3 separate regions of the Homo sapiens genome follow, and all the other regions are linked to region 1. Evidence: fine-mapped expression QTL. A gene starts in region 1. Each other region holds a variant in brackets. All regions are shown on one strand. Distances are between the middles of the regions. Region 1 holds the start of ATP6V1A (ATPase H+ transporting V1 subunit A). Region 2 has its middle 11 kb from the start of GRAMD1C. Region 3 holds the start of GRAMD1C (GRAM domain containing 1C).

Region 1 (8,183 bases):
GTACATTGATTTTTTAAAAAAACTTATGGTGTAAGGTTATATTTTATATGAATTCATCTCAACACAGCAAGGGCACATTACAAAGTATTTGTTAAAATTCACTATCTCAATCAACAAACCACAAATTGTTTCACAGAAGGAAGAAGTATAAACTGTAGGTTTATAAAAGGTGTCAAATGCTACGTCAGCCTGACTAGCTTTTGGTTTTGCTGAAAAACAAAACAGCAATAAACCTTTAAAAAAAGTTTTGTTTTGTTTTGTTTTTTAAGACCAGTTTTCGCTCTGTTGCCCAGGCTGAAATATAGTGACAAGATCATGGCTCTCTGCAGCCTTGAACTCCTGGGCTCAAGTGATCCTCCTGCCTCAGCCTCCCAAGTAGCTGGAACTACAGACTTGCACCAGCATGCCTGGCTTTTTTTTTTTTTTTTTTGAGACAGAGTCTCACTCTGTCGCCCAGGCAGGAATGCAGTGGCACGATCTCAGCTCACTACAACCTCCACCTGCCAGGTTCAGGTGATTCTCCTGGCTGCTTTATTGTTTGTAGAGACAAGGTCTCACTATGCTGAGATGCAAAAAGCATTCCTTTTGCCCCTTCCCAGTCCATATGCTGTCAGAGGTAACCACTGTTCGGAGTTTTTAAAGTTTTGTTTCTGACTGCAGAATCTTACATTTTAATTTTATTTGGTAAAATGGCTCCCTTTACTATTCCAATTAGTAGTCAACATTGTTCCATATTTATATTACTGCTACCTACTTTCCCATCTTAGTCACGTATTCACATTTTGTTAAAGACATTTTTTATTAGAACTAATTTGCACCTCTTTACTACAATTGAAGGCTAAATGATTTGGTTTTATTATACTTTCCATTACACTGCCTAATTACATTGCCACCTCAGTCATGGTTATCTGTGGCATACCTTCTTGCTTGAAATCGCCTTCCCTAGAGAAGAACAGATAAAAATATCACCCACAAATTCAAACTACAATGTCCCTGGTTCATAAAAACAGCCAACCTCAAAAGTAAGCAACATTTCCTAGTATATCTCAAACTTCTACATGTGCATATAAATTACATTCAGTAGTTAATAACCGGAAATTTATCTTCTATGGAGGAAAGACATGCCAATACAATGGAAAGTCCTACTGCTACTACTAATAAAAATACTCATGGTAAAAATATGAAGAAAAACCAGCTAAGTTTTAAGTTTCAATATGATAGGCAACATAGGCAACAGTGTACAATTTTAAATATTTGACTGGCTTCGTGTTGGGACTTCCGCAGTTTCCAATTTTAGATATTTCAATTTACTGTTTACTTACCTCAATATACAATAGAATACTTAGCAAATAAAATTTCATACAAAAGCCACATAACCAGGACCACTGTTTCGTTTTTACAGGCCATTCCAAATTAAGAGTCAGGACTTTAAAATCGACCACACTGTGCACTGTGGTACAAGTTTTGGAACTCAAGGCGCTTAACTTATTTTAAACCTATACTGTTGTAGGTTCAGTATCCGAACAAGCACAAGTAAGATTCACACAACTCATTTGTTGAGTGTCTTAAATACAGACTTAGAAGCAAAAAAAATTAAAAAGTTTCATCTCATCTGGGAGTTAGTTCATTTGTTAAGTTAAAGGGATTATTCCTGTGAAATCATCTTAAAGGTTTACAGTAAAGAACACAATTCTAAGCTCCCAATCATAAGAAGTAATAGGAACTTCACTGGCATAGTTACTGGCATAAAGGTACAGATTCAATAGTTGTAAGTTTCCTCTAAATTCGGCCAGTTATTTCTAGGGATCTGCCTTCATCAGGTTACATGTAAATACCCATTTTAAACAGAGATAATTGCTCCATGAATATATTAATTCAAGGTAGATTGTGAATAATATGACTGTTCAGCTTCATTTCTATCGCCAAGTTATGTATCAGAAAGAACATCACAGCCTATGGAGACTGAACTAGATTGAAGATTTTGGATCTAAACATACAGAATAATTTCCTGGCAACCCCTTCGTAAATCCATGGCAATTTCAACACTGGGAACTCTTCAGCCTCATTTTTCTTACTTAACAGAACATGACAAACAAGTACTGAGTGCCTGACAATGAGTACAAAAATGAGTAAGAGTCAGCAACCATGTTCAAGAAGTGCAGTATATGCCGCGTTCAGTGGCTCACACCTGTAATCCCAGCACTTTGGGAGGCAGAGGTGGGTGGATCGCTTGAGCTCAGGAGTTTGAGACCAGCCTGGCCAACATAGTCAGACCCCCGTCTCTACAAAATATACAAAAAATTAGCAAGGCGTGGTGGTGCGCGCCTGAGGTCCCACCGACTCGGAAGGCTGAGGCGGGAGGATTGCTTGAGCTGGGGAGGCAAAGGTTGCAGTGGGCCGAGATAGCGCCACTGCACTCCAGCCTGGGCAACAGAGCCAGACCCTGCCTCATTAAAAAAAAAAAAATGAAAAGAACAAAACAAAAGGAGTGCAGTATAGCAGAAAAACAACATTCTCCAAATATGTTGGATTGTATCTGAAATAGCCAAACTTCCAAGATCATGATTCAAGTGGAGCAAATACTTCCTATACCCGTCAATTATATTTCCCTAACTGGAACTCTTTACAACTTGATGTGAAACAATGCAGGTACTGTGAATAGTTCATGGTTCTTAAACTTTAAAGATTATTAGTACAAAACATACAATTCAACATTAGAATAAATATCCAGTATTTAAAGGAAAATTAAAGTAAGGAAACATGTTACAGACCTAAGACCAAATTAAACTTTCTTGGAATCTCTTCAGGAACCTCAAATACCGATACACAGAGGTAATATTTAGGTCCTTGTTTGGGGCAGTATGAGATTACGTTGAAAGTGACTTTTATTTCATCCTCAAAAGTGCTATTGAATAGTTGGAATGACTTCGTTAACTTAAAACATAGTTACGACTTCTTAATCGACTTACAACAACAAACTATGGCATCGCAGAGAGCTTTTTAACGTTTATGAGCTTCATCTCTTTGAGGGTAAAGACAAGCTCCAAAACGGCTTGAGACAATGCTTCGGAAAAATGTTACGTAATTAATACATTAAAACTATACAACTTAATGGTAAGGAGACATTTCATAAAAACTTAACCAGTCGATCCAAAATAATTCCTAATTTTACGTAAGAGGCAAACGGTGAAAGACCGAACATTAACTTTGCCAATCACCTGAAAGGAGCAGCGTGGTAGAACTACCCAGGACCGCCTCAGCACTCAGGGGCAATAGTGAACTACTGAAGCAACAGCTCCACCTACTGATCCACCCTATACTTCCTTAAATATGTTGGCACCCCAAGTCTACAGTGATCGCGCTCTCTCCCCCTCCTCCACTCGCTGTGACCCAACCCAAATCTAGTTGAGTCACTAGCTCTTAATACTCATCCCCGTGCTCTTTATTCCAATTTCTTCTTCCTCCAGAAGGTTCTGCACAGCTCCCAAGCGTGAATTAAACTGAAAGGTGTCAAACACCGCAGTTCCAGAGTTGAGTCTGGAGGTGGAAGACAACCAAACCACTCCACCTGGAGCTGCGGGCCGGCGTGGCTCAGCGGTCCGCTCCCGGGAAGGAGGCCCCGGGCGCTTCACAATAGCCTTTCCATGTTGCCCCACTCGGTCGCTTCTCCCCACTCAACAACCCACACTCGTCTCCGAACCGAAACCCTGAAGCCCCCCGGGTCTTGCCTCCGCTGGCCCTTCAGCCCGCCAACAGCCCGAGCCTCGCCTCCGCCCCCTCCGGGAGCCGAGGGAACTGAGAAGCAGAGAAATCTCCCTCCGCCCGTCTTCGCCCTGAATCTCTCCTCGCCTTTGCGGCTCTCCCCCTCTACATGGGCCCGGACCCTTCTACCCCACCGGCCGGGCCCTGCCCGGCTGCCCTTCCTCACCCTTTCATCTTCCCCGCCTGCTGAGGCCGTCGTTACCACCGATATCAACGCCGTCGTAGTCGCCGCCCTTAGGTCTCCGCACCCTTAGCTCGGGCCACTCAACCCCGCAAGCCGGCCTCCTAGCCTGGGCAGGGAGCTGTGCGAGCAACGAAGGCCGCGAGAGTCGAGTGAGGGCTTGAGTCTGGTGGGGGCGGGAGTGTCTCCCGCCGCCGCGCTTGTGCCGCCGCTTCTCCACACGTGCACTCGGGTCTCTCGGCTCCCTCCCGCCGCTGCCGCCAGCCAGACCCGCTGCCGCGCTGTGACCTTTCACCCCGCCCCTCGCGCGCCGGCGCGCCGCCGCCTCACGCGCAGCCGCACTGCTCGCCTCCGCGCACCCTGCCCCCTCCACTCCGGAACCTCCATCTTTCTCCTGGACTGGGCCTTCTGGGGTCATGCTCCTCCCTCCCACCCGCTTACGACACTGCTTGTGGGGCTGGCTCGGTAGGCCCTGGCGGTAAAATCCAGATTTTTCCACCCCTCCCTCTCTTGTCCCATATCCGCAAGATAGTTTTTCTCAGCCCCGTTCTTCCCAGTTTGTGGTCTCCAGAGTGACCTTCAAACGCTGTTGCCTCCTAGTAGGGTTTTATAAAGTTAGTTCTTCTAAATGTAAAGAAATCTGTGGAAAGCTCAAGTTTAAGTTAGGTGTTTTAAAACAAACGTAGTTAACAATCGGCCAGATAGATTGGCTACCCTCCAGCACGCCTCAAGTTTTAAGATCACGTGATTGGCCCAAACCTCAGAGCCTGGAATTTTACCGGCGGACTCCAGAGGGACGGAACGCCACCGCCATTTCCTGTCCCTCGATTGTGGCGTGAACGTCACTTCCTTAGCAATGCGCTTTAACTCTTGCTGTCCACATTTTCCACATTGTACTTTATAACATACTCTTTGTGAAAATTTATCTTTTATTTCTTTAATCCAAGAAAATTAATATTCAAGGGATCCGTAAAAATTCAGGCCCCCCGAGATGTAGAGCGCTGGGATGGAGGAGGCAGGGCGGAGCTCGACGTCATGTGACTGGTTGGGCCCGCCCCCCCCCCCCCCCCCAACCTGTGCAGCTGAGGACTTCCCCTCCGTGGTGACAGCCTCTGGGTCCTCGGTCGGTACAGTCTCTGCACCTCGCGCCCCAGCAGGTGAGCGGCGACCGGTAACTGGCGAGTGGTGGGGATAGAGGGGGTGGAAGGAGGCAGAGGAAGGAGAGAAGGGAGAGTGTGAACGGCGACTTTTCTGCCTGAGGCTTCCTCCCCGCTGTCACCCTGCACCGGCAAGGAGCTCATTTCTCCTTAACCCCCGCTCCCCCAAGTGTGGTCGTTCCCGCTACTTGGGGATTCAGATGTCCACCTTTCCCAGGGTTGGAAGTGAGTGCGGCCATTATGGTTCCCTACTCAGAGCCTTTGGGGCTTCGGGTAGCAGATTGTTTCAGCCATTTCACAGGGTCTGCAGTAGACATTAGGTCCCATTCCTTAAAGCCCATTCTTTGGCAAAGGTCCTCACTGTCCTTACCCTCAGCTCAGGGCTGAGGAGCGGGGAGGTAGCAAAAACCCTGGAGGCAGAGGCGTCTCCGGTGAGACAGGCTTGGGAGGGACTGTCACTGATACGGCCCTCACTGCAGAGTCACTGTGAAGCTTCCCTCCGAATGTGCTTTCTCAGTGATTCTAAGGATTTTATCTGACATACCTGCAGGGAAGGTTCCGTAGATGTTCACGTGCTTCGGATGGGACTAGAAAAGTAAAAGAAGGGCTTTTACTTTTTCTTCTCTGCAGAGAGGACAGTTGAAGGAATACTGTCTTCAAAACAGGAGGTGTTAGTAATGCGACAGTCTCGATTGAATGAGGAGGCGTTGAAAGATGGTATTGTGGTGTTGTGGTGTGCAGGAGGCCCAGGCTGGTTTAGGGAAGAGTGAGTAGGGTTCCCTGAAACCGAAATAAGAAACTGATTGGGTTGGAAATAGTTAAACCAAATTGATTTGGCCATATGCTTAAAGGTAGAATCAAGTCGAGATGTTGCTGTCTGCACATGTTTTCTGCCGTCAATCCTTCCCTTTTTGTCATTTTCCCCTAAAATACTACTGAATTGGCACTCCCAATCTATTCCTTGATCGGCTTTGTGGTAAATTTAGGTTAAGTAGCATTTGTATCCCTCTTTAGCTTTCCCCATTTGTAAAACTCCCGGTGCCCTCTTCAGATTTTGATGAATAGTATTTTGTGAAAATACAGAAATTGTTGTCCAATTGAAAATACAGGTGTTGTCCAACCCAAGTACTCCCATTCCGTCCATAATGTATTATTACCAATGTTTTGATCCCAAACAATGTGCTTTAGGGAAGAATGTTTTTCAGTTTGTGGTTAAACTCTTTTATTTATACTGCAAACTCAGAAAATTCCATGCTGCTTTTCAATTGAAGGTCTTACGAATATTACAAATTTGATTTTTAAAATTTAAATTACACCTTTCTTAATATGAAAAATTATATGCTCAGTTAAATCTTGTAGTTTTCTAACTAAGGTAATTAAAGAAGACTGCTGGAAAATGAGGAAGATGGAATCATCTTTGGTGGATGTGACTGATTTATTTTTGTTTTTCTGTGTCTTCCAAATTCTATACAATAAACGGTCTTATTTTGTTAAGGAGAATAAAAAGTTAAAATTCTACAATAGCAGCAGTTTAACAAAGTATTTTTATAGTAAGTGCAAAATACATAACCTAGCTTATTGATGCTCCTTAGTAGAAAACATAACCTCGGAGATGTTGCTTTCCCCAAGTAATGAAGATTACTACTATCTCTTGTGGATTTACCATTTTAGCATTTCGTACTTACGACCCATACTGGACAATAGACTAATGTATTGATATATTTATGTCATCATGCCTGCTGTAGATATATATATGTAGTTTTATCCATTAATTTTCTCCATAATAAGGTTCCTTGATCTCTAGAGGAGAGGGGAAGAAAAAAAGGAAGTGTTACTTCAGTGACCAGGTGACATTGCACCACGTAAGGAGAATTCCTTATGTGGTCTGGAAGTCCTAACTAGTCCTGTCTGGCTGAGACCAAAATGTGAAAGAGAAAACCAGCTAGAAGCATTGACTACTAGAGGGGAAAATGTCAGTATGAAAGTGGTTGGATGAGTCTGCAGTTTTACTTCACAATTCCCCCAGTTTTAGGGAACTCGTGAAAGCAATAACTTAGACCACTGATGAAATGTAGATTAGTAGTGGGAATTGGTGATTACATTGCTAGTAAGGTTAAATGTGAAAAAAAGCTTTGACATTATACACAGATCACACACACACACACACACACACACACACACACACACACACACGATTGGAAGCCTGGAAAACATTTCTGAGACTAGCCTTATCAGTTTATGAGTGTTACATGTAGAAATCTTAACATTTATTAGGGAATTGTGCTATAGTCCACTATTAAATAAAGCATAAGGGTTTGGTTTTATTTTAGGGCCCTTGGCACTTCTGGTTTTCTTTTCCTGAGTTCTTGTTTTCAGTGCCTTTATAGATTTTTGCCACCACTAAGAATGCTTTCTTCCCCATGGGCAGAGGTAGCCACTCAGTCCTATAGACTACTACTAATCATCATCATCATCTTTTCTATTCTTCTACTTGCACTTCTAGCATTGTATTTAATTCCTGTTCCCTGGGCTCTTCCTCAGCAAATCATAAAGCTCTCAGGACTGTGAACTATAATACTATTGTGTCTTCAGCACCAGAATACTGAAGTACCTGATAGGTACTCAATAAATTATTTATTGAATGAATGTTGGGCAATTAGACAAAGAAATTAAACCACTTTAATTTTTGCAGATCATAGCTCTTCCTAAAGTTGTGCACTAAATGTTAGCTTTTAAATATAAACTGGTAATAACCTTCCAAATTCATGGTCAATACAATAGATAAAAACCTCAGATGGACTTTATTAATGCTGAGACCAACTTATTTTCACAGCATGTTTGTTTACTAATAAGTATGGTTATCATCAAAATATGGGAGAGAAGGGAAGAGGAATGAATCGTACTAAATGAAAAAGTGGCTCTGCGTGATCTATAAGTGGACTAGCACTAGACTAAAAGTCAGAGGATCTTCATTCAGCTCTGCCACTTTAGTTATATGTCCTTTTACGTAATGCTGGGGAGGGGTTCAGGTTTGATACTTAGGAACCTTCCTATGACATAAACCCTAGGTAATCTATGTGAAA
Region 2 (8,183 bases), 81 kb after region 1:
ACATTTGCTTATTTATTTGTAAAGGCAAAGCATTTTTACTTAAAATAGCAATGCTAAAATTGAGAGGTTGGTGGATATCATTGAGGCAGAAAGGAGAGGAATGAGAGAGATGGCAGGTCAAATTTAGGTAGGTTAATTTATTTAACACCATAGGTTATAGTGCAACATTAGATAATATAAGGCATCTCATTTCAGAAATTGACACAAGTTGTATTTAAATAATTTATAGTTTAATGAAATGTGAATCTGGAAATCTAATATCCTTAGCAAATGACCTAGGAACTCTCTCAGTTTGTACTTTTCTCTTTTCACTCTAACACTGGCTTCTATTTTGCACATATCCTTATTTTACCAGCCTTAAACTTTGTTCTGTTCAGTGGATCTCATTCTATAGTCCCTGGAAATTTTATCCCTTTCTCTACCCAACTTAACTTAAGCCCGCTTTGTTTGTTTGTTTGTTTGTTTGAGATGCAGTCTCGCTCTGTTGCCAAGGCTGGGGTGCAGTGACACTATCTCGGCTCACTGCAACCTCTGCCTCCAGCCTCCCAAGTTCAAGTGATTCTCCTGCCTCAGCTTCCAGAGTAGCTGTGATTACACGCCACCATGCCCAGCTAATTTTTGTATTTTTTGTAGTGACGGGGTTTCGCCACATTGGCCAGGCTGGTCTCCAATTCCTGACCTCAGATGATCCTCCCACCTCGGCCTCTCAAAGTGTTGGGATTACAGGCATGAGCCACTGTGCCCAGCCTAAGCCTGTTTTTCTATATTGGTTTTTTCCTTTTAAGATATATATATATATATGTGTCTGTATATATTTATCCTACAAAAACTATTCAAATCAAAACAAAAATGTTTGTCAATCCAATACTCAATAAGCAACATTTAAATAAAAACATAATTACTTTCATTGTTTATTTACTTAAAAATATTTATTTTTTAAGTAAATGTTTATTTACAGAAAAATATATAGTATTAACATGGACAATTAAAAAAAACATACATATGTATGTACCCATCACTCAGATTAAGAAATAGAATATGGGGCCGAGCATGGTGGCTCACGCCTGTAATCCCAGCACTTTGGGAGACCAAGGTGGGTGGATCACCTGAGGTCAAGAGTTTGAGACCAGCATGGCCAACATGGTGAAACCCTGTCTCTACCAAAAATTTAAAAATTAGCCAGGCATGGTGGCGCATGCCTGTAATCCCAGCTACTTGGGAGGCTGAGGCAGGAGAATTGCTTAAACCCCGGAGGCAAAGATTGCAGTGAGCCAAGAATGCGCCATTGCACTCCAGCCTGGGAGACAGAGCAAGACTTCATCTCCAAAAAAAAAAGAGAAAGAAATAGAATATTGGAGTAACATAGAAGCCCTCACCAATTGCAACTCTCTTCCTTCCCCAAAGATAAACATTACTCTGATTTTTGTGTTAATCAGTGCCTTGTTTTAATTTATAGATATGTCACCTATGTTCCTGTGTAAGCAAAGGGTGACTGGTGTCACTATCAGATTTTTAAAGCCTTTCAGGAGAAAAGAAACTGATCATAATCTGGCGTTAGGTTCCCGGAGAGTTAATAAACAGTCTTTTTTTAGGGAAGTCAGTGAGCAGGAGCCTTCAGGAATCCTGGAAAGCCTAGGACTCAAGCAGACTTTGAGCACCTGGACCAGATTCTGGATGTTTGGCAAAAATATGGTCAGAGAAAATGGACTGTTCTGTGTTTTCTGCTTCTAAACCCATCATAGCTACCTCTCGTTCTCAGGAGTAAGTCAAACCAGAAATCTGTGGGGTGAAGCAGCAGAGCATGGAGGGAGAATAGGAACTTCACAAGCAAAGTACACAAAAGATTCTGAACATGACTCATAGGGAAATTCTGTCTTCAGCTAAAAAGAAGATAAATGGCAATAGGGATCTTGGTGATGACAGCACTCAATCAGCTTGTCTCTTGAGTTGCATGGCTCCAATCTGGACTACTTGCCTTCTATGTCTAGTCTGCAGCTGTCATTCTGGGATCTACCACTTGGGGAATGCCATCTCTATCCTAGTGCTTGTTTTTCATCGCCCACATTTTATCTTTACTGGTTTCTTAATGAGCTGTTTCTCCAGTAGCTTGTTTCTTAAGTAAGGTGGGTGGCATATTTTTTGAGACATATACATCTGAAAATTAAAATTGCCTAGCAGCATGGAGACAAGGAGATGACCTAGGGATATAACTGCTTTTCAAACAGCTTTGACCTGGCCAGAGTGGTGGCTCATGCCTGTAATCCCAGCACTTTGGGAGGCTGAGATGGGCAGATCACCTAAGGTCAGGAGTTTGAGATCAGCCTGGCCAACATGGCGAAAACCCATCTCTACTAAAAATGCGGGCATGGTGGCGCGCCCCTGTAAATCCCAGCTACTCGGGAGGCTGAGGTAGGAGACTTGCTTGAACCCAGGAGGTGGAAGCTGCAGTGAGTCAAGATGGTGCCACTGCAACCCAGCCTGGGCGACAGAGTGAGACCCCATCTCAAAAATAAAAAAATAAAAATAAAGCAAGCAGCTTTGACCTGAGTCCTTATTTTAGCTACAATTCTACTTCTTTCCTTATTTAATCATCAGTGTCACAGGTATTTTGGTGTTGTCTTCCCATGTTTTTTGGGCATTCTGAGGTGTAAATCAGCTTGGTCCTTGGTTGTCCTAGAGGTCATTTTGGAAAGTCAGTGGGCAGGAGCCCTACAGGCAGTCCTGGAAAGCCTAGGACTCACCAGACTTTGAGCACCTGGACCAGACACTAGATGTCTGGCAAAAATATGGTCAGAGAGAGTGAGTTTTATAATTCAGTTGCAATTCATTCCCCTGCCTTTCAGCTTACAAGTTTCTTGCTCTTGCTTCCTCTCCTGTTCTGTCTGTCCACAACTCCTTTTATTGCAATTTGGGTGGGTTTCAGGAAGGAACAAAGTTAGATACATATGTGTACACACACACACACACACACACACACACACACACACACACACTCACACACACACATTTTAAAAATTTTCCTAGGGATGGATTGCTGTGATGCCCAGGCTGGTCTTGAACTCCTGGCCTCAAGCAATCCTTCCATCTGAGCCTCCCAAAAGCTAGGATTACAGGCATGACCCACTTCATTAGGTCTATAAAGATATGTTAACTCACTATTTATGGGTTAGCAAAACTAGAAAAAAGTGATAAAAATTAACAATGACATTTCCCAAGGATCTATACTAAAACTAGTCATACTGAACATTTAACAAATTTGAAAGAGTGAAGTTTGTAAACTCCTTCAAGCTCTTTCTAATATTGAAATGTGAGTTACAGAGCTGTACTTCAGGAACACTCTACTTAGTGAAGGGGCAAAAAGTGGCATACCATCGGTAGCCCACCTCTGGGCCTCCTTGGGATAAAATAAAGAGGTGACCCTAGGACTGCTGCATGCTTCTGAGCACCCTATCTATTTCCTCAGCACTCATTTCTTCCCCACCAGCCCTGCCCTTAACTCCAAAACTCCCTCCCTAGTGCGTTGTGGAATTCAGGATCAGACATGAACAAAATCTTTTTTTTTTTTTTGAGATGGAGTCTTGCTCTTTCACCCAGGCCGGAGTGCAGTGGCACTATCTCGGCTCACTGCAAGCTCGGCCTCCTGGGTTCATGCCATTCTCCTGCCTCAGCCTCC[C/T]GAATAGCTGGGACTACAGGTGCATGCCACCACGCCCGGCTAATTTTTTGTATTTTAGTAGAGGAGGGGTTTCAACACCATGTCGCCCAGGCTGGTTGTGAACTCCTGAGCTCAGGCAATCTGCCTGCCTCGGCCCCCCAAAGTGCTGGGATTACAGGCGTGAGCCACCGCACCCAGCCAACAAAATCTTCTATAACCTAAGTTCTTTGAGTTTTCTCTGAAAATTCTCTAAAAATCTTTCTTCATCTTGTTCTAACTCAAGGGTGTCCAATCTTTTGGCTTCACTGGGCTGCATTGGAAGAAGGATTGTCTCAGACCACATATAAAATACACTAACACTAGGCCGGGCACAGTGGCTCATGCCTGTAATCCCAGCACTTTGGGAGGCCGAGGCAGGCGGATTGCCTGAGCTCAGGAGTTTGAGACCAGCCTGGGCAACACGGTGAAACCCCGCCTCTACTAAAATACAAAAAATTAGCCGGGCGTGGTGGCATGCACCTGTAGTCCCAGCTACTCAGGAGGCTGAGGCAGGAGAATTGCTTGAACCCGGGAGGCAGAGGTTGCAGTGAGCCAAGATCGCACCACTGCACTCCAGCCTGGGTGACAGAGCGAGACTCCATCTTAAAATAAAATAAAATAAAATACACTAATACTAATGACAGCTGATGGCAAAAAACTCTCATAATATTTTAAGAAAGTTTACGAATTTGTGTTGGGCTGCATTCAAAGCTGTCCTAGGACGCATGTGGCCTGTGGGCCACGGGTTGGACAAGCTTGCACTGATACTTGGTTTTCCCCTGAAACTTGAGAGGAAACGGCTTTCCCTGAAGCCCTCTCAAGTGGTGTCTGTTTCCTCTCCCACACCATCATATCACTTGTAACTTCCCATTGATCTGGCCTTCTTTGATCCTGGCCTCCATTGGCCTCCAATCAATAAGGCCTCCATTGATCCTGGCCTCTATCATTCATGCCCTGTGGAGTCACCTCCCTCAGTGAATCAGAGCTGACTGACCCCAATAGAATGCGGTGTAAATGATAGTCTATAACTTCCAAGGTTAGGTCATAAACGGCACTGTAGTCCTCACCTTGGTATCCTGGATTACCTGCTCTGAGGAAAGGCACTGCCATGCAATGAGGACTGAAGCAGCTCTGTGAAGATGTCCATATGGAGAGGAATTGAGGTCCCAAACCAATAGCCAGTACCAGGTGCCCGGCCATGTAAGTGAGACACCATAGAAGTGGATCCTCCAGCCACTATCAGGTCTTCTGATGACTGGATATCCACTTGATTAAGGGCAACCTCTGAAAGCCCATGAGCTAGAACTGAGGAGCTGAGCTGCTCCAGGTTCCTGACCCACAGAAACCATGAAATAATGAATGATTATTGTTTTCAGCCACTAAGGTTTTGGGTGATTTGTCATGCAACTATAGTAGCTGGAGCACCAATGGGCCCAAGAAAAAGTGATTGTCTTCTTTTTTCCTATTACTTCCAGACTCTTTTCCTTCACTCTTCCCTAACACTCTATCTTTGAATTTCATGTCAGAACACTATGCCACCAGTTGCCTTTTCTTATTGGAGTCATCTATAAACTCACAATCCATGTTCCCTTTTTCATTGAAGATTTTTGCTCCTTGCTCATGTCGCTTTCTTCTACCCTACTCTTTCTGCACTTGGTGATTTCAATAGCCACTAAGGTTATACTTTCAATTCCTGGTTTCTTAGTGCCTTGTCCTCTGCCCCAACAATCTGAACCACCACTCCTGTCAGCCACCCACTCTCATGCTCATATCATAGAACTTATCATTATAACTGCAATTTGTCCACAATCTCAGTTTCAAGTACCATTTGTATCTTTCCAACTCATCACTTCTATCACCAGCAGTCCTTTAATCTCAACTAGATTTACAAACATTTAATCCTCACACTTTCATTGGCCTTGACACTCTTATGACCTTATTTTGCTTCTTAACCCTGCTTGGACTCCAGGGGCAATCATTATTGCCAAATCCTTGCATACATACTTATCTCCCTTGCTTCTCTTGTGACTTAGCGTACTTGCCTGGTAAAAATCAACCTTAGGCTGGGTGCAGTGGCTCACATCTGTAATCCCAGCACGAGGGAAGGCCAGAACAGGAGGATCATTTGAGGCCAGGAGTTAAGACCAGTCTGGGCAACATAGGGAGGCCCAGTCTGTACAAAACAAACAAACAAACAAACAAACAAAACTCCCCAAAACCTAGCTGGATGGGGTGGTGTGGGCCTGTGGCCCCAGGTACTTGGAAGGCTGAGGTGGATCACTTGAGTCCAGAAGGTTAAGACTGCAGTGAACAGTGATCATGCCACTACACTTTAGCTTGGGTAATAGAGAGAGACCCTGTCTCAAGAAACCCTCCAAAACCTCCAACTAAATCCAACTGTGTCCATTCTGTGTTTGCATTTGTGCAACTACAAAAAAAAAATGACACAACTGTGGAGGGTGGTTTCACTTTATTTATTGAGTTATAATAGTTTTTAATTACTTGAAATAAGAAAGTTGCAAGAATAGTGCAAAGGCTTCCCATAAAACTTTTACTCAGATTTTCATGTTTGCTTTATTTATTATTCTCTCTTGGCACACAATTTTTTTTTCTGAAACATTTGGGTGAGCTAGATCAAATATATCAGTGTACAAAGTCATACGTCACTTAACAACTGGGATATGTTCTGAGAAATGCGTCATTAGGCAATTTTGCTGTTGTGCCAACATCCTAGAATGTACTTAAAGAAATCTAAATGGTAGAGCCTACTGAGGTGATGTTGTTGTCTGGGGTAATACCTGAGGTTCGTTGTCCCACGGTCATGGAAAACAAGGACGCAGACAAACCAGGGTGAGGTTCAGAGCAGAAGTTTAATAGGCGAAATAAAGAGAAAAGCTCTCTCTGCTGCAGAGAGAGGGGCCCCAGAGAATATGGGTTGCTGCTTCCATGGTGAAATGCAGAAGGTTGAATAGATGATCTTGGGGAGGTGGTATCTGATTTATATAGGGCACAAAAGATTGGTCGGACCAGGTGTGTCATTTGCATAGCACACGAAGAACTGGTTAGGACTAGGTGTGCGGTTTGCACAGCATGCAAAGAAGCTGGCCACTCCACCCTAATCTTTTATTATGGAGATGGGTTCTCTACATGGCCAGGCACCATGTTGCCTGCCTCTTTACTGTACACGTGGTGACAAAGAAAAGAGAAGAGGACCCTCCCTGTTGAACATGCCTGGCATCCAGGTAGCCCTTTTCTATTGGCACTGAGGCTGGCATTCACCTGTGCAAGCTTTTTAGCTTGCTTATCTATGTTTGCGGCTTGATTTTTCAGGCTGCTCTTTGTTAGAAAAGAAATGTTTTGGTGGCTGCTTTTTGTTAAAAGGGGAGTTCCACCGAGGACTCTTACCCTTACTATCTGCCTAAATTCTATCTCCTGTATTACTACTACACACTTAGGCTATATGGAATAGCCTATTGCTCCTGAGCTATAAACCTGGACAGCATGTTACCATGCTGAATACTGAAGACAGCTGTAACACAATGAGAAGTATTTGTGTATCCAAACATAGAAAAAGTACAGTAAAAATATTGTACTATAATCTTATGGGACCACTGTTTTCTTGTGGTTCACTGTTGAATGCAGTGACTGACACATTGTTATGCAATGCATGACTGCACTTCCTAAAACAAGCACATCCCCATACCTAACCATAGTACAATTATAACAAACAGGAAATTGTATGGGCATGGTGACTCATGCCCGTAATCCCAGCACTTTGGGAGGCCAAGGCGGGTGGGTCACCTGAGGTTAGGAATTCGAGGCCAGGGTGACCTGTAAAAACCCCATCTCTACTAAAAATACAAAAATTGGCCTGGCATGATGGTATGCACTTGAGACTACTCCGGAGCATGAGACAGGAGAATTGCTTGAACCCAAGAGGCAGAGGTTGCAGTGAGCTGAGATCGCACCACTGCACTCCAGCCTGGGTGACAGAGCAAGACTCTGTCTCAAAAAACAAAAACAGGAAATTAACACTGAGTCAATACTATAATGTAACCTACACTTTATTCAAAGTTTTCCAGTTGTCCCAGTAATGTTCTTTATAACAACAACAACAACAAAATGTTTCTGGTTCAGGATCCAAGACAAAATCGCACATTGTATTTAGTTGCTATATATCTTTAGTGTTCTTTAGTATGAAAGAACACTTCAGTCTTTCTTTGCCTTTTATGAGTTTGATGTTTTTGAAGAGTTCAAGTAATGTCCCTCAATTTCAGTTTGTCTGTTTCCTCACAATTAGATTCAGAGTATGCATTTTTGGCACTGTATATTGTTTTGCACCTTACTTTTTTTTAATGTGACAAAATTTTTTGTAGATCTTTATATATCAGTGCATAAAGAGTTTCCTCATTCTTTCTTGGCCATTACTTCTTCAAATATTCTTTCTTTCTTCTCTCCTGGAATTCCCATTTTGTATATGTTGGTCTACTTG
Region 3 (8,183 bases), 94 kb after region 1:
TGTTTCGAACGATGTTCACATTTTTGTCTGTGTTTAGACATGATTACCCAGTGGCCTTCTTTTTGTCTTACTCTATCATGATCATACAGTGGCCTTGCTTAATATTAGTGTTCTGTGACGTTTTTTATGTTTAACAGAACACAGTTTATGCAAAGTTTTGCAGAATGAGGATGGAAACCTGTCTTTTACTGATTATCTTATTAAGTAATTTGTCCTTTAGTATGTCATATATATTTAAGAAATATGCTCATGGCCAGGTGCAGTGGCTCACGCCTGTAATCTCAGCACTTTGGGAGGTTGTGGCGGGTGGATCACTTGAGGCCAGGAATTTGAGACCAGCCTGGCCAACATGGTGAAAGCCCATCTCTACTAAAAATACAAAAATTAGCCGGGCATGGTGGTGGGCGCCTGTAGTCCCAGCTACTCAGGAGGCTGAGGCAGGAGAATTGCTTAAACCTGGGAGGCAGAGGTTACAGTGAGTCAAGATTGTGCCACTGCACTCCAGTCTGGGGGACAGAACGAGACTCTGTCTCAAAAAAACAAAAACAAAACAAAACAAAAAAGAAATACACTCAGTGTCTGACATTTTGTGGAACTGGATTCAACTCCTTTCCATCTCTTCAACTTTACATTATGATTTTTAAATATATGTAAACAGTAAAAGAATAACTGAATAGTAGTATACCCTCCACTTAGGTCCAATAATTAACGTTTCGCTATTTTGTTTTCTCTGTGTATTCATCTTCGTGGAAGCATTTGGAAGCAAGTTGCAGACATGGTGCTACTTCACTCCTAAATACTTTTTTTTTTTTACATCCCCATGGATAACAGGGAACTCCTAAATATTTTAGTGTGAGTTTTCTAATATTAAAGACACCCTGCAACATAGCCACAAGTTATTATTATTATTATTATTTATTATTATTATTTGAGACGGAGTTTCACTCTTCTTGCCCAGGCTGGAGTGCAATGGCCTGATCTCGGCTCCCTGCAGCCTCCACTTTCCAGGTTCAAGCGATTCTCCTGCCTCAGCCTCCCAAGTAGCTGAGATTACAGGTGCTCACCATCACGCCCGACTAATTTTTGTATTTTTAGTAGAGACAGGGTTTCACCATGTTGGCCAGGTTGGTCTCAAACTCCTGACCTCAGGTGATCCTCCCACCTCAGCCTCCCAAAGTGCTGGGATTACAGGCTTGAGCCACCACGCCCAGCTGCCAAAAATTATTAATTATCCATAAATGAATATCCATAAATGTATACATAAATCATTAATTATCCTGTAACATCAACTCTAATAGCCATTTCATATTCACTATTCCTCAATTGTTCTAGAATGTCTTCCCTCCCTCCCTTCCTTCCTTCTTTCCTTCCTTCCTTCCTTCCCTCTCTCTCTCTTTCTTTCTCTCTCTCTGTCTCTCTTTTCTGGAGATGGGGCCCCCCTGTTTTGCCCAGGCTGGTCTTGAACTCCTGGACACAAGCAACCCTCCCACCTTAGTCTCCCAAAGTGCTGGAATTACATGAGTTAGCCACTGTGCCTGGCTTAGAATGTCTTTTTTATAGCTGTTTGGTTGGGAACTCTGAACCCCAAATATCTGAGACAGGCCTCAGTTAATTTAGAAAATTTATTTTGTGAAGGTTAAGGACACACCTGTGACACAGTCTCAGGAAGTCCCAATGACATGTGTCCAAGGTGGTTGGGGTACAGCTTGCTTTTATATATTTTGGGCAGACCTAATACATCAATCAATACATGTAAGATTTACATTGTTTCAATCTGGAAGGGGAGACAGCTCCAAGGCGAGAAGGAGGAACTTTCAGGTCATTGGTACATAAAAAAATTTTCTGATTTGCAATTGGTTGAAAGCGTTATTATTGACTGGGAGCTGTGGCTTGCACGTGTAATCCCAGCACTTTGGGAGGCCGAAGGGGGCAGACTGCTTGAGTCCAGGAGTTCGAGACCAGTCTGGGCAACATGGCGAAACCCTGTCTCAAAAAACAAACAAACAAACAAACAAACAAACAAACAAAGTAGTTAAGCATGGTGGCACACGCCAGTAGTCCCAGCTACTCGAGAGGCTGAGGTGGGAGGATTGGTTGAGTCCGGGAGGTGGAGGTTGCAGTGAGCAGAGATTGCGCCACCGCACTCCAGCTGGTCTAATAGAGCCAGAACCTGTCTCAAAAGAAAAAGAGAAAAAAGAGTTATTATCAGTAGAAAGGAATGTCTGGGTTAGGATAAGGGGTTGTGGATACCAAGGTTTTATCATGCAGATGCAGCCTCCAAGTAGCAGGTGTCCGAGGCAATAGATGATAAATATTTCTTCTCAGACTTAAGGTCTGTGTTGATGTTAATGAGGCATGTCCAATCCCCTCTTTCATCATGGCCTGAACTAGATTTTCAGGTTAAATTTGGAACGCTCTTGGCCAAGAGGAGGGGTCCATTTAGATGGCTGGGGGTGGGCCTCGGCATTTTATTTTTGGTTTACAGAACCAAGAATCTGCAATACGTACAGCAGTTAATCAGTAACTTCAATCCTTTATTGGAAGGAACAAGAGTTTCCTGGCCGGGGGCGGTGGCTGACGCCTGTAATCCCAGCACTTTGGGAGGCCAAGGCCAGCGGATTGCCTGAGGTGGGGAGTTCGAGACCAGCCTGACCCACATGGTGAAACCTTGTCTCTACTAAAAATACAAAAATTATCCGGGCGTGGTGGCAGGCGCCTGTAACCACAGCTACTCGGGAGGCTGAGGCAGGAGAATCGCTTGAACTGGGAGGCGGAGGTTGCAGTTAGCCGAGACGGGGCCTTGGCACTCCATCCAGCCTGAGGAATGAGAGCGAAACTCCGTCTCAAAAAAAAAAAAAAAAAGTTTCCGAGCAATTCACCTTTTCGCACATTGGGGCAGGGTATGCCATTTCCTGGGAGGCACAGTAGTTTGAGGTTGGGAATAGGGAAGTCTCATTGTGACCCCTAGAAAGACAAGCCTTCAGGCTAACCCGGTAACACCCATCGTCAGGAATCCTTCACGGCCGCCAGAGGGCGCAAGGAGCTGCGGCTGGAAGTACTCGGAGGGCCGGCGGAGGAGGCGCGCGGAGCCTGTAACTCGCAGCGCGCGCTGGAGGTGGGCGCGGGGCGGTGCGGTGCGGTGCGCGCGGGGCGGTGCCGCGGCGGCGGAGGGAGCCGCGATGGAGGGCGCTCCGACTGTCCGTCAGGTAAGCCGCGGGCCTCGCTGGGGCAGGTTCCCATCTGTGGCTTTAGCCTACTTTTTCTCACGGTGATTGCTTGAACCTTCTCAGATTACAGTTAATCCCTCCCTTCCCTTTTCTTCGTGCTCTTTGGAGTAATACGGAAAGTTGTTACCGAGGAAACGGTTTCCTGTGCCTCTGCGAGCCCTTTCCCTACGGGCGGTGGTGGGGACATTTGCTTCCCTGTGGGCGTTGAGGGCTTGAATTTGGTCCCGAAATGTCCTGGTGCGGATGTCTCAGC[C/T]CCAGGCCCCCTTGGGTCAGGCCCCATGGTCGTGATTCTGACCCACTGTCAACGTTTTTTCCAGCCTTGCCCCCTTCCTTTCATTCTCAGCCCTGTTGTAAAGGTCCGGATAGTTTAAATCACTGTGCTGTCAGCCAAGTTTTTGATTTCAACTAGTCTAGTTTTATTTGTTTACTACCTTATTTGACAAAACGGAAAGCGTGCTTATTAATATTCAGGATGAAACCCCGCTTTTGTTGGACGGGCGCCTGCGTTTCTGAACACCATCCTCCTTCTACATTGGTTTGTGTGTATGTATTTTACTTTTAGAGAACTGCGGTCAGTGCTATATCTTCTGAAGAGCGTTATAGTTTACAGATTAGTGGAGGTACACAAATAATTGTTGAATGAACAGATGAATGAGTGTTATTTCACTTGATTTGAAAAACATTACTATGAAATAGTCAAGCTGGATATTCATGAACCCAATCAGTCACTGATTCAGTTATGTCCCTGGCACTGGGTGTTCGGGATTAGATGGTGATTAACACAGACATGATCCCTGCTCTCAATAAGCTTATTGTCTAGACTAGAGATAAAATTATTTCCTCTATTGTAGAGTTAAGGAACAGATGTACAGAGATTGACTTTGCTAAGGACCACACAGCTAATAAGTCAGAGAGACAGGAATCTACTGTAGCCACCCCAGAAAGCCAGAATGGACCCCCATCCCAAATTTGATTCAGGTGTAGAAACTGATGATGCCACACACACACCATGAGGTTGGAGTAGAAACTGATGATGCCACACACACACCCTGAGGTTGGAGTGCAGTGGCGCAATCTCGGCTCACTGCAAGCTCTGCCTCCCGGGTTCACGCCATTCTTCTGCCTCAGACTCCCCAGTAGCTGGAACTACAGGCGCCCGCCACCACGCCCGGCTAATTTTTTGTGTTTTTAGTAGAGACGGGGTTTCACCGTGTTAGCCAGGATGGTCTTGAACTCCTGACCTCATGATCCGCCCGCCTCGGCCTCCCAAAGTACTGGGATAACAGGCTTGAGCCACCACCGCGCCCGGCCCTGAAAAAGTCTTTTACTTACATAATTAAGGTCTCCAGGGAGAGCAAGGCAGGCCTCTCAAGCAGCACTAAAATGGCTTAAGAGAGCCTCAGGAAAAAACTGGCTCCAGGTCTTTTTTTCACCCTTGATGTTTGATGACTGACCTGCACCATTTGAATTTGAATTTGAATTTAAGTCAGCCATTGTGGCCCAGTGCAGTGGCTCATGCCTGTAATTCTAGCACTTTGGGAGGCCAAGGCAGAAAGAAGTATCGCTTGAGGACAGGAATTTGAGACCAGCCTGGGCAACAAAGCAAGACCCTGTATCTACCAAAATAAAAAAAAAAAAGAAAGAAAAATTAACTGGGCATGGTTGTGTGGCGCCTGTGGTCCTAGCTATTTGGGAGGCTGAGATAGGAAGATCACTTGAGCACAGGAGGTTGAGACTGCAGTGACCCCTGTTTGTGCCATTGCACTCCAGCCTGGGTGACAGAGACCAAATTATTTTCAGAAATTTAACCAAGGTGGTAGGCCTTACACTATGTGTGGCACAATAGCCCATCCTCCTTTTGTGAGCTCCTTTGTGAGTATGTCAAAAGACTGTCCTCAGGGGAGGATGTCATCAATGGAATGTTATACTTGTGCTCCTGGAGAAAATTTGATGCAGTTAAGATCTTTCCTGTAAAGGCTGTGTATGATGGCAAGACTGCGTACTCTATGGTTAGCCTGGTAAAGAGATGTTATGTCTCTCTGGAGGTGAAGACCAACTATGGCTGAGGAGGTGTTGAAAGAGACACTGAACAGAACATATTAGCCAAATCTATCACAGCAAAATATTTACTAGTTGTGGACTGGATAGTCAGTAATTTCAACAATGTTGAGTATAGGGGCCTTCCTGGGTAAAATGACATCATCGAGGATGCAGTAATGAACCATGAGGTACCATTCATTCTTACCAAATTTAACAGGCCAAATTGGGCTGTTAAATGGAGAAGCAGTAGGGATAATTACTTTCACAAAGTACTTCTTTCTTTCTTTCTTTTTTTTTTTTTTTTGCGAGACAGAGTCTTGCTCTGTCGCCCAGGCTGGAGTGCAGTGGCACAATCTCAGCTCACCGCAACCTCCACCTCCCGGGTTCAAGCAATTCTCCTGCCTCAGCCTCCCAAGTAGCTGGGATTACAGGCACGTACCACCACGCCCAGCTAATTTTTGTATTTTGTTTTAGTTGAGATGGGGTTTTACCATGTTGGTCAGGCTGGTCTTGAACTCCTGACCTCGTGATCCACCTGGCTTTCCCTCCCAAAGTGCTGAGATTACAGCATGGCGTGAGCCACCGTGCCTGGCTGAAGTAGGTCTTACATAACAAGTTTTAGTCCTTGAAGGCCCTGTTTTGTTTTATATTGGGTTGTATAATTTTAACTGGGCATTGAGAGTGGTGGTCCATAGGGTCTCACTGTTTTGTTTATTTTGAGACAGAGTCTTGCTCTGTCACCTGGGCTGAAGCACAATGGTGCAATCACAACTTACTGTGATCTCCAACTCTTGGACTCTGGCAGTCCTCCCACCTCAGCCTCCCAAGTAGCTAGGACTACATGTGTGTACCACTATGCCAGGCTAATCTTTAAATTTTTGTAGAGAGGGGGCCTTGCTGTATTGCCCAGCTTGTTCTCCATACTCTTGGCCTGAAGTGATCCTCCTGCCTCAGTCTCCCAAAATGTTGGGATTATACGTGTGAGCCAACATACCCAGCCTGTTGTCCCACTTCTTTGAAAGCCAATTTGTAAGCTCTAAAGACTTGATTTAAATTTAGTTTATTACTAATTGTGTCAGAGTGTCCATGGCCACAATAGGATATTTCAGGGCAATGTATACCACCATCGTGGAGTATTTAGGCAAAGGTATAGTTCTGATGGTTAAAGTGAGGCATACCTATTTGTTGTCTATTTTATGTTGAATAACTCCTAAGATTGTAGGGGATACCTTGTTTAAATTTAGTGGGAACTCTAGGTATAACTGTAATTTGAGACCCAATATTGATTAAAGCCATGAAGATTTGCCAATTGCCGCATTTTAGCTGATGTTGAAGTTAACTTAGAACCTATGTTGTAGAGGCACAAAAGCCAGTCTTTTATCTTTTATCCTGTAAATTATTTTAAATTCTGTATGTTTTGTTAGATCAGTTTATGGACTTCAGTTTCAGTTTTTTTTGTTTGTTTTTGTTTTGCTGTTGTATGTTTCCTCCCCTTCTATCCAGGTTTGTTGGTTTCTCCCTCTCTTTTTGGAGGTTACTGGATATACTTCAGGTGGAGGAGGTCTTCTCTACCCTCTCATGTTTACAAATTTCTTTCTCTAGAGAGCCTCAAATCAGTATCATTGTGATTAGAGGCTTCCCCCATGGCAATGGTTATTTATAGGGTTTAAGAACCTCAAGTTTGGCCAGGTGCAGTGGCTCACGCCTGTAATCCTAGCACTTTGGGAGGCTTAGGTGGGCTGATCACGTGAGGTCAGGAGTTTGTGACCAGCCTGGCCAACATGGTGAAACTCCATCTCTACTAAAAATACAAAAATTAGCCGGGTGAGGTGGTGCACGCTTGTAATCCCAGCTACTCGGGAGACTGAGGCAGGAAAATCGCTTGAACCCGGGAGGTAGAGGTTGCAGTGAGCCGAGATCACGCCACTGCACTCGAGCCTAGGCGACAGAGTGAGACTCTGTTTCAAAAAAAAAACAAAACAAAAAGAACCTCAAGCTTAAGTGGAGCAGCAGCAGCAGAGATATTTAAGGATCCTGGTCCACCATAAGCTGTTTTTTTTTTTTTTTTTTTTTTTTTTGTTCTTGTTGTTTGTTTGAGACAGGGTTTTGCTTTGCCGGCCAGCCTGGAGTGCTGTAGCTTGATCATGGCTTACTACAGTCTTGACCTCCCAGGCTCAGGCAATCCTCCCACCTCAGCCTCCTGAACAACTGGGACAATAGGCGCATGCCACCATGCCAGGCAAATTTTTTGATATTTTTTGTAGAGACGGGGTCTCACTATGTTGCCCAGGCTGGTCTCAAACTCCTGGGCTCAAGAGGTCCTCCTGCCTCAGCCTCCCAAAGTGCTGGGATTATAGGCATGAGTCACTGTGCCTGGCCCATATGCTTTTATAATGGCTACTCCTCCTTACTCCCCTATTCCATATTTGCTTTTTTCTTTTTTTAACTGCCTGATGAGTGATCTTACTTGAGCAATTACCCGATGGGCCCATATTTTTTTGAGACAGAGTCTGGCTCTGTCACCCAGGCTGGCATGCAGTGGTGTGATCTCGGCTCACTGCAACCTCCTCCTCCTGGGTTCAAGCAATTCTTCTGCCTCAGCTTCCGAGTAGCTGGGACTACAGGCCACCATGCCTGGCTAATTTTTTGTATTTTTAGCAGAGACAGGGTTTCATTATATCGGCCAGGCTGGTCTTGAACTCCTGGCCTCAAGTGATCCCAAAGTGTTGGGATTACAGGCGTGAGCCACCTCGCACAGCTGGCACATCTTATTTGTTTGTTTAAACTCCATTGTTTGTATAAATCAGAGCTTATTTACTAATTTCTCTATTGATGGACGGTGAGGTTATTTCCACTTTCATAGTATTAACAAACATTCTTGACTCTATGTGTATATTAAATTGCTGCATTGCAGTA

The links.
Region 2: its variant is fine-mapped to the expression of ATP6V1A in whole blood (TOPMed, PIP above 0.99).
Region 3: its variant is fine-mapped to the expression of ATP6V1A in whole blood (TOPMed, PIP above 0.99).

What each region holds. Positions count from the first base shown.
Region 1 is chr3:113,742,014-113,750,196 of GRCh38, forward strand. ATP6V1A (ATPase H+ transporting V1 subunit A) reads left to right here and starts at 5,022. Exons shown (of 15, transcript NM_001690.4): 1 at 5,022-5,100. It overlaps NAA50 (N-alpha-acetyltransferase 50, NatE catalytic subunit), which reads right to left and starts at 4,236. Exons shown (of 5, transcript NM_025146.4): 1 at 3,929-4,236. The coding sequence starts at 3,936. RefSeq lists enhancers at 3,080-3,816, 3,420-3,569, 3,817-4,552, 4,553-5,288, 4,610-4,979 and a silencer at 4,140-4,259.
Region 2 is chr3:113,823,389-113,831,571 of GRCh38, forward strand. It overlaps a transcript of GRAMD1C not described here. Among named protein-coding and RNA genes, the nearest start is that of GRAMD1C, 11 kb to the right of the region's middle. RefSeq lists an enhancer at 7,510-7,659. The variant C/T (reference allele first, on the strand shown) is at 3,674.
Region 3 is chr3:113,835,731-113,843,913 of GRCh38, forward strand. It overlaps GRAMD1C (GRAM domain containing 1C), which reads left to right and starts at 3,058. Exons shown (of 18, transcript NM_017577.5): 1 at 3,058-3,206. The coding sequence starts at 3,180. RefSeq lists a silencer at 3,071-3,270. The variant C/T (reference allele first, on the strand shown) is at 3,481.